Homo sapiens: one gene and its partners. The protein of the gene in region 2 purifies or fractionates together with the protein of the main gene of each other region. This does not show direct contact. Each region holds a gene or a part of one and is shown on either strand. Other genes may lie near its edges.

The links.
Region 1: the proteins of MT1F (region 2) and GNB1L purify together in Homo sapiens (affinity purification with mass spectrometry; one large-scale study listed by BioGRID and IntAct). This does not show direct contact.
Region 3: the proteins of MT1F (region 2) and ERI3 purify together in Homo sapiens (affinity purification with mass spectrometry; one large-scale study listed by BioGRID and IntAct). This does not show direct contact.

The regions. Positions count from the first base shown.
Region 1 is NC_000022.11:19,816,875-19,821,150, forward strand, and holds part of GNB1L (guanine nucleotide-binding protein subunit beta-like protein 1), read right to left. Parts: intron 3,850-4,276; coding exon 3,724-3,849; intron 1-3,723. UniProt on the Homo sapiens protein: Acts as a critical regulator of DNA damage response (DDR) signaling via specifically regulating phosphatidylinositol 3-kinase-related protein kinase (PIKK) family proteins.
Region 2 is NC_000016.10:56,656,623-56,659,803, reverse strand, and holds MT1F (metallothionein-1F), read right to left. Parts: upstream 1,846-3,181; 5' UTR 1,746-1,845; coding exon 1,718-1,745; intron 1,130-1,717; coding exon 1,064-1,129; coding exon of another isoform or gene 1,023-1,063; exon of another isoform or gene 1,022-1,022; intron 732-1,021; coding exon 640-731; 3' UTR 501-639; downstream 1-500. UniProt on the Homo sapiens protein: Metallothioneins have a high content of cysteine residues that bind various heavy metals; these proteins are transcriptionally regulated by both heavy metals and glucocorticoids.
Region 3 is NC_000001.11:44,338,258-44,342,533, forward strand, and holds part of ERI3 (ERI1 exoribonuclease 3), read right to left. Parts: intron 1,066-4,276; coding exon 788-1,065; intron 1-787.

The DNA.
Region 1 (4,276 bases), on a different chromosome or scaffold from region 2:
TGCCACACCACCCCCCCAACCCTGCTTCTTTGACTGCCTGGCACCCCCTTCCCACCCCATCCAAGGGGCACTGAGGTGGGGGAAGGCGGGACCGCTGGGTACCCACATGGAAACCCAGGGCCTTCACTGCACACCGTAGTGAATTCCAGCTGAACCATGGATCTACAAGGGACAACAGTAAAGTTCCTGGGAGACATGGAGAGAGGTCTCTCGGACCTCGGTGCAGGAACTCCCGGCAAGACACAAAGGCACTCTCCATAAGGGGAAAGCCTGGCAGACTTGAATCAACTCCATTAAAATGAGTAACTTTGTTCATTAAAGACACCATTAGGGGCCAGGCACAGTGGCTCATGCCTGTAATCCCAGCACTTTGGGACGCCAAGGTGGGCAGATTATGAAGTCAGGAGATCATCCTGGCCAACATGGTGAAACCCCATCTCTAGTAAAAATACAAAAATTGGCTGGACGTAACGGCACATGCCTCTTATCCCAGCTACTCGGGAGGCTGAGGCAGGAGAATCACTTGAACCAGGGAGTCGGAGGTTGCAGTGAGCCAAGATCATGCCACTGCACTCCAGCCTGGCAACAGAGCAAGACTTTGTCTCAAAAAAAGAAAAAAAAACGTAAGAAAAAGAAAACAGCGACAGCTGACTGCAGCTACATGCAACACACGGAGCTCACGGAGATAAAGTTGAGTGAGAGAAGTCACACACAGATGCTGCTCCTTATGTCTCCACGCTTCCAAAGAAAAAAGCAGACAAAATAGTCTATGCTTTTCAGAGACATACATTCATAAATATAGCAAAAATGAGGCGTGAGGGGCTACCTCCTGGGGCATGAGGGGCTATCTCCAGGGAGAGCAGGTGGCAGCAGCTCAGGGATTCAGAGGCTCGGGGGCCCTGCGCTCTACTTCTTGACTGGAAGGTGGTTGCTCAGGTGCTCACTCAGCCGTAATACAATGCTCTGAACACTTGTCTTGCACTCTTCTGTGAGTACATTATACTTCACAAGAAAAAAGATTAAAAAACACCCTGCCGAGGTGGCTGTCGAAGGCACAGGTGTGTCCTTGGCATGCGGGAGGCTGAGGGCGTCCTCCCACCTCCCATCAACATGAAAGCCATCACTTCCTTCAAGGGCCACTTGGAGAGACTTGGCTTCCAAACACAGCTGAGCACAGGCCGGGTGGCGGCCCACAGGCTCTAGTACAGTGCAGACGCACCTGGCACTCCACACCTGCAGTTTCTGTCCACAGACCCCCTGACCCGTGGCTGGCTCTGCCTGGGAAGCAGCCACTACAGCACCATCCCAGCAGGAAGGGGAGGTGCCCTCGAACGTCAGCTCCCAGACCGCCCACCAGGCCTGGCACAGCTCCTGTCTGCAGGACAGCCTGATACCACAAGGCACCTACGCAAGGGACCACCAAGGGCTACATTGTGGCTGAAAACTCAGGAGGACACTTACAAACAGCAGCTCCTGATGCACATGGCCTGGTGGGGTTCTAGAAATGAAGTCTACTCTGACAATCAAAGACCAAACCCACTCTGAGGCCCCCTGCACCAGTGGTGAGGGATCTGGGTCGGCTTGGCCAGGATGCAGGCATGACCACACGGGGCTCTGCAAGCACACAGGCTCAGGGCCTCTGCTCTTCAGGACAACCCTGGTGCCTTCGTCACCTGCAGCCATCTCCCAGGTGGTAGGCACCGCGTGAGTCTAGCACAGACATGTTTTGCAGACTGGTGGGGGCCAGACAGGCCTCATTCTCCAGGGACTATACTCCACAGTGCCATGAACCAGGCACCGAGTCCAGAGCAGGAGAACAGGCCTGTCCTTCTGGAGTTCTGGGCTGTGATGGTGATGGCACGGAGTTCCCTGAATATGACGCAAGGCAAATCCCAGGACAGCAGCAGGCCCGTGCTCAGGATTCCTGGGCTGGTGGCAGCGATCCCCACACAGGGGCAGATGTCACTCTGATCAAGGACAATAGCCTGCTCCAGCATCCAGGCAGCCCAAAGGAGGACTTGTTGTCAGCCCCCTGCAGGCCTTCCCTGTCCCACCATGCCCTGTCCCTCCCACTCCCCATGGGAAACAGAGAAGCCCCTCACGCACCTGCCCCTGTCTGCTGCTTCCTGGCCTACCTCCGGCCTGGTGTCTCAGCCCCATCACCTCCACAAGACCACGGGGGCGATGTCAGAACCCAGCCCTGGGCTAACCCTCGGGGGCTGCCCCTCCCTGCTCTGCTGCCAGCTGCCCAGCACCCAGCCCCACTGTCCTTCACCACACTCAGAGGCAGGCCCTCCAGGGCCGCAGCACGTGGGGTCTCCCCCACCAGGACTGCCAGGCCCTCTTATTCCTCCGCCACCTCCTGCTTACCCAGCAGCTGCACCAGCGTGTGAAGCAGGGCCCTGTGAGCTGGGTAACCTCAGGATGAGGCTCTGCCACCCATGCAGGAGGATGGTGCGACAGCCACAGGAGGCCAAGTTGTAGAGGGGCTGTGGTGACTGGGACCTGGGCCCATGGGATAGAGGCAGAAGCTCATCTGAGGAGGGGCCTGGGCTCAATGCGGACCCCTGGCCAGGGCGAGCTCTGCTGAAGGCACAGGCTGACACTGCAATGGGGACACAGCCATCGCCATACGTTCACTAGGCTCTTCCCAGCAGGCACCTGGCCAGACAGCACAGCAGTCACGGAGGGTAGGGTCACACTGTCTCGGGATGGGCTAAGGCCTCATGAACCATGGGGGCACCCAGAAACCTGCCCTTGTGCTAAGCACAGGCTAGAACAGTGGGGTCTGAATACCAATGGGGACAGGCCACCTCTGTGGACCCTTCCTGCTGGGGTACAGTCTGGACAAGTAATCCCCAAGTGATGCGTAGGGTACAGAACACACACGTGAGCTCGGGGCCCTGAGGGAGGAGACTGCAGGGGTAGAAACCACAGGAGACACTGCAGGGGGGACCAGGTGGGGAGATGGCCCTCACTACCACGCCCACTTCAGAAACGCAGAAGCACACTGCTGTGGGACAGCACTATACACCCAAGCCCTGCGCCCCGCCCCTGGCCACTCAGCCACCATCTTGCCAGCCACATAGCCGTATGTGGCACAACATCAGGGGCTGGGTCCTCTTGGGAAGAGTCAGGTGCATTGTCATAACCTAGTGAAGGGACACACACGGCCAGGGCTCAGCTGCCGGAACACCCAGCTCCTAGGGCCTCCACCGGCACCGTGTGTGACCTGCCATGCTCATGGCACACGGCCCAGGCAGGATGGGCAGTGGGCAGGGAGGCCCTCCTTGGGACCACTGCCTGCATCCCTGAGCCTGTACTTCATCCCATTCCCCTCCTCTCAGCAAATGCCCTCACCCCTGCCCAGTTTCCCAAGCCACGACCCAGTGCCCTTGTGAAGGCCCTCCCACCAACTTGCGCCTGGGCTCACCTCAGATGTCACCAGCCCTGGAGCTCTGGCCTCCTCACCTGGCACCTCCTGGCTCCAGCTTGGAGCATGAAGGGTCCAGTGGAGATGGTGGAGATGCAGAGGCAGACCTGCCTGCCTCCCTGTGACAAGGGGCTGGACCTGCACACCCTGCCCTTGCTGCGGACCCTTTGCTGGCCCCTTCTGGTTCCCCCACCCCATTCTGCCCCTCAGTGGGGGACACCAGAGCCTCCATCAGAGAGTTCCTGACTCCCCCGAAGGCCATACCTGGCTCCTGCACCTTGGAGACCCACCTGAGGAGCTGGCGCCCCTGGGGCAGCGTCTGCAGCCAGGTCACACACTGGCCGCCGTGGCCATCCAGGGTGGTAACCGCTCTCCGCGTCTGCAGGCTCCAGATGTGTACCAGGCCACTCTGAGACCTGTTTCAGACAAGCCGAGCAGGGTGTCAGGGGGCAGAAGGGTGTGCTGAATGCTCTGGGGCCAGCCTGGAGGCCACATTGTGGGATGCGGGCATCTAGGCTGGTTGAGCTGAAAAGCCAACAGCTCTAAATATGAACTAAGGGCCAAACTGGCAAAGCACTCCTTGCTCCTCTTCCAGAGAGGGGACCGGGGGACCCTCAGGAGCCTCTAGGGGTAACTCAGGCAGATCTGCTTCTCTGGAGGTAGGGGGAGCCATGCCACAGTAATGCACGCTGGGTGGTCGTGCCTGCTCCTGCGTCTGTAACAAAGAGTGTGTGTGTGTGTCCCTGCCTCCCCCAAGGGACAGTGTGTCTGCTGGTGGGTGCTGAAAGCTCAGCAAGCCTGGGTGGCGAGCAGTCCATGCCCCTTGGCCAGCACCCTCAAACA
Region 2 (3,181 bases):
CCTGCTCGGCCAGATTTTGTATATTGAATTTAATTTCATGACTTCCATCATTAGTATTATTTCATTTACCAAGGTTTAGATGTGGAATGGATAGGAATTAAAAACCCCTCCTTCACCCTGGAGTTTGAGAAGCCCGGTGTAGAATTCAAATAACTAAGGGGTTTGATTCCATTCCGTGTAGTCACTTTCTAACCTGAAATCCAAAGAGGAATTGAAGTTGGGCAGAGAAATCAGAGAAGGAACAGGAGGCATTGAGAAGTTTCTGTGCCACATTTGAGAATGAAGGTGATCCTGTATTCTGGATCCCCACCAATGACCTGATGAAGTGTTATTCCATTCTACAGAAGAGGAAGCACAGTGAGGCAGCCTGGCTTGCCTTAATGCACTCTGATTGTTAGGGACTCAGATTTCCATTTAGAGCCCAGGAGTCTGCAACCCTAGTTCGATCCCCCACCCCAGTCTCTGATTTCTGAAGCACATAAGGGAAACTGAAGTCAGAATCAGGTCTAAAGTGTTTAATTATCACTCACATATTTCACAGGAAAAGGAATGTAGCAAATGGGTCAAGGTGGTATAAAAAAAAAATCCAGGTTTGTACATGTCTCTCTGTTTACATCTGGGAGAAAGGTTGTCCTGGCATCAGTCGCAGCAGCTGCACTTCTCTGACGCCCCTTTGCAAACACAGCCCTGGGCACACTTGCTACAGCCCACGGGGCAGCAGGAGCAGCAGCCTGGGGAAGAAGAGGAGCATGAGAGGTCACAGCCAACTTGCCCAGGGACCTCCCTCCCCAACAGAGGCCCCCAACAGAGCCTCCAGCCACAAAGGACCCTCAGTTCAGGAGGGTATGGCTTTGTCAGGAGACAACTGGGAAATATCTGGGGTGGGTCTTCCTATGAGAAAGCTGCCCAGGCGCCCTGCACAGGGCAGAAGACTAGAAAGGCAGTGACAACCTACGGGGACAAAGGAAGGCCAGTTCCCCAGAAGCATGCACTCAGGGCCAGCCTTGGGTTCCATCCCAACCTTAGCCACAGCCCCAGACCATGGAGATGGCCTCACACTCACTCTTCTTGCAGGAGGTGCATTTGCACTCTTTGCACTTGCAGGAACCAGCGCAGGTGCAGGAGACACCTGCGAGAAAGAGAAAAAAAAGCCAGTGAGCGGCGAGTGACCTGCAGGAGGTACAGCAGTGAGTTAATGAGTCTCCATTGCCCCCTCCTCTGTGCGGGGCCAGCCCTCAGAGCTCCTTTCCCACTCAGAGCAGAGGAAGAGAAGCCCCATGTCCTCTCCCTTCATGCTGGGAAGGCCAAGCAGCCTCCTGTTTGCACTCCAAAGGAAAGTCCCAGGCTCCAGGCACAGCCTGGGAAGACGGCGACTTCGACTTTCTGTCCTGAACCCCGAAGAGGCAATGTCCCCTGCCTCCTATCTAATCCTGCTGCTCAAAGCCTGGTCAGAGCACTGGGGCTCAGCCAACAGCCCTGGGACAAACCGCATGACGTGGAGCAGGACAGCCTTGAGCCTCAGTACCCTCAACGCTGACACAGAGGCACAGAGAGGAAGGAAATGCTCTCAGGATCTTGGCCAAGAGGAAAGCACTGGACTAAGTCAAGGAGTCCCCTACAGTTGAGATCTCAAAATACGACCTTCTCAAACCCAGGAACACTCTCTATGGTGTCTGGGAATCGAGCATCCCCAGGCACGGAACCCGGCGTTCCTTACCAGCGGCGCAGGAGCAGTTGGGGTCCATTGCAAGCCGAGGAGAGACTGGACTTTCCAAGAGAGAAGCGAAGAAGCAGTGGGGCAGGTGGAAGGCGTGGTGGACCCCAACAGCCGGCCGCTGCTTTGATAGTCAGGGGAGGGGGCCGGGCGCAGAGACCCCGCCCCGTCTTTGCACCCGCCCCGCCTGTCAGCGCTGCGGGAGGTCCTGGGTGGGCTGTGTGCAGCAGAAGGGCCGGGCGCAAGGTCCCCTGAGCGCAGCTCGCTGCACACCGCGGACCGTCCCTTTGGAGTCCGCTCAAGCGGGAGGCGCTTTGTGCCTGGGTGAGCGGCTTCCCTGCCCTCCTGCCCGCCCTTCCCAGTTTCGCCAAGATTGCCTGCTACACCCGCCCCTTGGGGTTCCGGGTACCTGGAGATCCTGGCCTTCGCCCCGCCCCCCGGCCCCGCCCCGGTCCTTCGTCAACAGCTAAGCCTTTCCTGGAGTCCCAGTGCAACCCCAGTCTCTTGCGCCACTGTCTAGATTGGCGGGAGCAGGGAGCCTAGCAAGGGAGTAGTGTGCAAAGGACAGGCCGAGGATGTGACCTTCGGATCTCTAGCATTGCCTGTCCCTGTCACCCCACCTCAGTCCTTTGGCCATGTTTCTCCTGCGCACAGCAACACGGAAGACACAGGGCTCTGCCCCCCTCTCTTCCATTCTTCACTCTTGAGAGGCTGAATGGGCACATTTGTCTGGGTCCTCCTTTGCATAAATCTCTCCGGGGTCTCCCCACAGCCTCGACGGGCACCCCACTATAGGATGGCAGTTTGGAAAATATGGGATGCCCCCAGAAGCGAGATCACTGAAGGCGGAGTTTGCGGTGAGCCGAGATCGCACCATTTTTGCACTCCATCCTGGGCAACAAGAGTGAAACTCCCTCTCAAAAAAAAAAAAAAAAAAAAAAAAAAAAAAAAAAGAAAAGAAAAGAAAGAAAAGAAAAAGAAAAAGAAAAACTTAACATAAGAAGTAAGAAAGACAAGTGGTTAATTCCCTTCAATATTACTAGCAATTGCTTAAGGTTGAGTCTGTGCCAGTCTCCTTTTAATCATTTTCATTGTTTGAACCTTTACAACAATTGTAAAGGGAAATACTAGGCATGAACCCATATTAATAAATGGACACCTACAACAAAGAAAGTTCAAGCAACGTGCTCATCGTCACAGAGCTAAAAAGCTGTGCACTGATTTGAATCCAGCCAGCCTCTCAGGAGAAATTCTCTGAAATAAGGCCCAGCTATGTCTTCTCTATTGCTGGACTTCCCTATGGCTTGAAATCTTTTAAATAATAACAAGTCAGGCCGGGCACCGTGGCTCACGCCTGTAATCCCAGCACTTTGGGAGGCTGAGGTGGGCAGATCACTGCAGGCCAGAAGTTCAAGACCAGCCTGGCCAACATGGCAAAACCCCATCTCTACTAAAAATACAAAAATT
Region 3 (4,276 bases), on a different chromosome or scaffold from region 2:
CAGTTCCTGTGAGTCAGGAATTTGAGAGTGGCTTAGCTGGCTGGTCTGGCTCAAAGTCCCTCCTAAGGTTGAAGTCACATGTCCACCGGGGCTGCAGTCATCTGAAGGCCTGACCGGGGCTGGTAGATTCACTTCTAAGATAGCTCATTCTCATGACTGGCAAGTTGGGCACTGGATTTTGGCTAAGAGCCTCAGTTCCTACACACATGTGCCTCTCCACAGGGCTGCTTGAGTGTCCTGGCAGCATGACAGCTGGCTTCCCCCAGAGCAAGTGGTCCAAAAGAGCAAAGTGGACTGCAATACTTTTTATAACTTACCCTCAGAAGTCGTACATTATCTCTTCCACTGTATTCTATTAGCTATACAGGAATATCTTTGATTCAGTGCAGGAGGGGAACTACCAAGGGTGTGAATAGCAGGAGTTAAGAATCATTGAGGTCATCTTGGAGGCCAGCTACTATAGCACTCCTTAAAGGAACAAGTGGCAGTAGCAGGAGAATGGAGGAAAGAAGAGAACAGAGAAAGGAAGGACGGGAGAAGGAAATATTTTGATTCCCAAAAGCTGAGACTAGAGAGAAACAATGTACCCAGTTCTCTCCAGAGACTTCTCAGGTCTACCTTACACTAGCATACCTGAAACAAGTCCTGCTTCCTAGACAGGAACTCTAAATGAGTAGCTAAAAGACAGGAAGGCATGAGAAAGCTCCTTTGTGTCCCAGGAAGCAAAACTATCCTCCCTCCCTCCTTGCCCCCCCCACCTTTTCTAAAGCAATGATGGAACAGTTACCTGAGGATGAATCTGTGGCTTGTCGCACGTGGCCTCAAAGTCCAGCACTAAAAAGTAGTGATACCTCTGGGGAGGGAAGGACACCATTGCCGCCATGGATGCGCCAAAGCCGTGGGCCGCCAGCTTTCTGGTGGATATGGAGCAGAACTCCGGAACACCACAGGGAGAAAATAAGTGGGAGCCCAGCACTTTTCTTGCTCTTGAAAGTAAATACGAAGAAAATCGAGCTGCTCCAGTCTGTAAAGGTGCTAGCATTGAACATCCAGAAGCATCTAAAACTTAGGGGAGGAAAGTTTAAAAAAAAAAAAAAAAAAGAAAAGAAAGAAAAAAAAAAAAAGAACAGAGAGCCTGGGTTACTCCCTCCCACTGTGGCCCTGTTCCATCTAGTCTTCAGGAATATCCACGCAACATGGGCCACTCCCCAGTGTTTCTGGGCCCCTTTTCTAAATCATAGTATTCGTTACTAAAGTTCAAGACCCTAATAGCAGCACCTGCAGCATTATTACAGCTCTGAGTCTCCCAGATCATTCTCAAAACAACATGCAACACTGGCCTGCATCTTTAAATGGAGCTCTAAAGTTCAAAAGAGAGAAGAGAGAAAAATTGTGCAGTCACTTCTCAGGTGGCAACAGTTAACATTAAAGCTATGGGTCCAAAGTAACGTGAGGTGACCCTGTTGTACAATGAGTCCTGGAAGCTAAGTAGACTCAGACAAGCAGCAGAAAATGTCCAAGGTTCTTTTCTCAGCTCCACTAGGAGCCATTTGCCCCTGGCTTTCCAGTCTGTATCTTGATGTCTCCACATACCCTCCTCCCCTCTCCCAAGGTGAAGGCAAACAAAGCGAATCACAGGGGTTTGCTCTGACATTCTGGTGATCCCCCAACCCCCACACTAGTAAGTGGCACCCTGGGGGAATGAACAGTGCCTGGAGAGCACAGCTGGCTGCAGCCTTAGGCCTTCTCATTTGCTGCCTTAGACTCGGTCTCTACTCGAGGCCCTGAATGACTGCGGGACTTTTTAAATAGGGAAGAAAAAGAAAACCCAGATGTGGCAGTAATAGGAACATGGCTAAAAGTCTAGTAAAGTTTTCTGAGTGAACATGTGCAAAAAAAAAAAAAAAAAAATCAAATCACTTTTCCTTTAAGTTTTCCCCTTAAATTTGCAGAATGCCTGCTCCTCAGAGGCCTAACTAAATACAAAAATCAAAGCCTAAGTTTTACTCACGAATAACTCAAACTTCCTTAAAAAGAAAAAAGGAACAAAGCAGAAATGTTGTCTTTCTCCCTTTAATACTCAACATTCAAATTTCTCTCAACTTTAATCCTCAAATAAGAAATCTCACTGTACAATACAGTAATGGCCATAGTTTGTGCTTTCCGAAGCCTCATTCCAACACAACCAAAGGCTTGCCTCTGATGGCTGCAAGTGGGCACCTGGCTCCCTTCACATAGGGTAGAGGGATAGCACCCTGTGAAGTCCAGCGCGTACTCAAAGGCAATGAGGCCACTACCACCTGAACAGAAGCAGATAATGCCAAGTATGGCTGTCTTCCCATCTCTCTCCTGACTCACTGAATGAGCTACAGTAACTTGCCTATATATATAGTAGGATATACGCTAGTGTAGGTCCTCAATTTCCCTATCCCTATAATGAGATTTCAGGGGGATTCAGTGGAGCTAAGACCAAAAAATATTTTAAGTTCTTCATGGATCCTGCACAAGCACAGCACTTGTTTTCACCACTGCTTTATAGCCTCACCAAAAATACAGCCAAAACTCAGCCCAGGTAGACAAACGCTGGCTTGAGTTTCAATATGGAGTCTCCTGGAAGGGCAAGAGGGCCAATATCCCTTTGAAAGCCAGAATCTTCTCATCGCCTATTCCTGAATAGTACTGGAAGCCTTAATGAGATGGAAGACACCAGTCTGCTCAAATTACCCATTCTAGTTTGGATCCAAAGTCCCTCAAGGACTTAGACTCTTCTCTAACCCCATAAAAAAGTGTAAAGACTTCTGAAAGTCCTAATGTTCTACAGTGTGCACAGAATATGCGTAGTATATACAGTCAGTCAATCCTGTCTACCAAATACTATAAGCAATTAAGCATGATGAGTAAGGAGGGCTTCCAAGTTTGAATCCTAGCTTTACCACTTACTACCCATGGCACCTTGGGCATGCTGTGTTCTTCAATTCCTCATCTGTAAAATGACAATAACAATAGCACCTACTCCTTAAGTGAGAACAAAATGAGACAACACATGTAAAGCACTAAGACCAGTGCCTGGCATATAACAGCCTAATATATATTATCCTAATGTTATTACTACTATCCTATTGGGCTATGCCCACCTGGCCAAGCCTGGATCCCCAGATTCTGGGCCTACAAATCCAATTAATTCATAAGGCAGCCTCAGAGAGTAATATCGATGTCTTCTGCAACCCTAAAATGCTCCAGACCTCTGACAGAGCATACTATATATACCCTATTCTGATGGCCAGTGGTCCTCTTGCCTGCAGGCCTTGCTTTCTCACCTGATTTCATCTACATCAAAAAGCTTCTTTTGGCCAAGCACAGTGACTGCACCTGTAATCCCAGCACTGTGGGAGGCTGAGGCAGAAGTATTGCTTGAGCCCAGGAGTTCGAAACCAGCCTGGGAAACATAGTGAGACCCAATCTCTACAAAAAATAAATTAAAAATTAGCCAGGCGGGGTGCTGCATGCCTGTAGTCCCAGCTACTTGGTAGGCTGAAGTAGGAAGATCACTTGAGCCCAGGAGGTTGAGGCTACAGTGAGCTGTGATGGAGCCACTGCACTCCAGTCTGGGTGACAGAGCAAGACCATAATTCAAAAACAAAACAAAACAAAACAAAACAAAAAAACTTCTCTCGTAGGAAGTCTTGAGAGTAGACATTAGGAGGTCAGGCCTCCACATATCAGCAGTTACTGGATTCCACACTTCCCTTACTTCTAACAACCAAGCTCAGTTCAAGTCAAGAAACAGAGGGTAGCTCTTCCTCTTCCCTTCCTGAAAAACTCAATCCTAAAGCCATTAGGTGCAGCAGAAGAGGGCAGATATCTACAACGGGTGGAGTAGGGTGAGCCAGAGAGGTCTGGGGGACACTGTCAGAGCCCAGGCAGGGTGAGGAAGACATCCTTGCAGAAGTGGGAAGGTGTGGTGCAGCATGTCAGAGCCGAGGGGGATGTGGAGAGCATCCATGTCGGCTGGCAGTCTGATGTGGGGTGACACACGCAGGGTAAAAGAGGCACTCATGAAGGGTAAAGGGCAGTGGCAGTAATGAGGATTAGCTACCTACAGAGGAACTGATCAAAGAAGTGCATATATTAAGCATAATGGGACCCAGGTTTCTCACTGTTAAGAGAAAGGAGTTAAAATATGGAAAGGGAGAAAATCTGTGGTGTTGGATTGGAATTGGCAGGAAGAATGTGAACTCATGGTTTCTGATTAGATGTGTATCAGATAGATAGATGG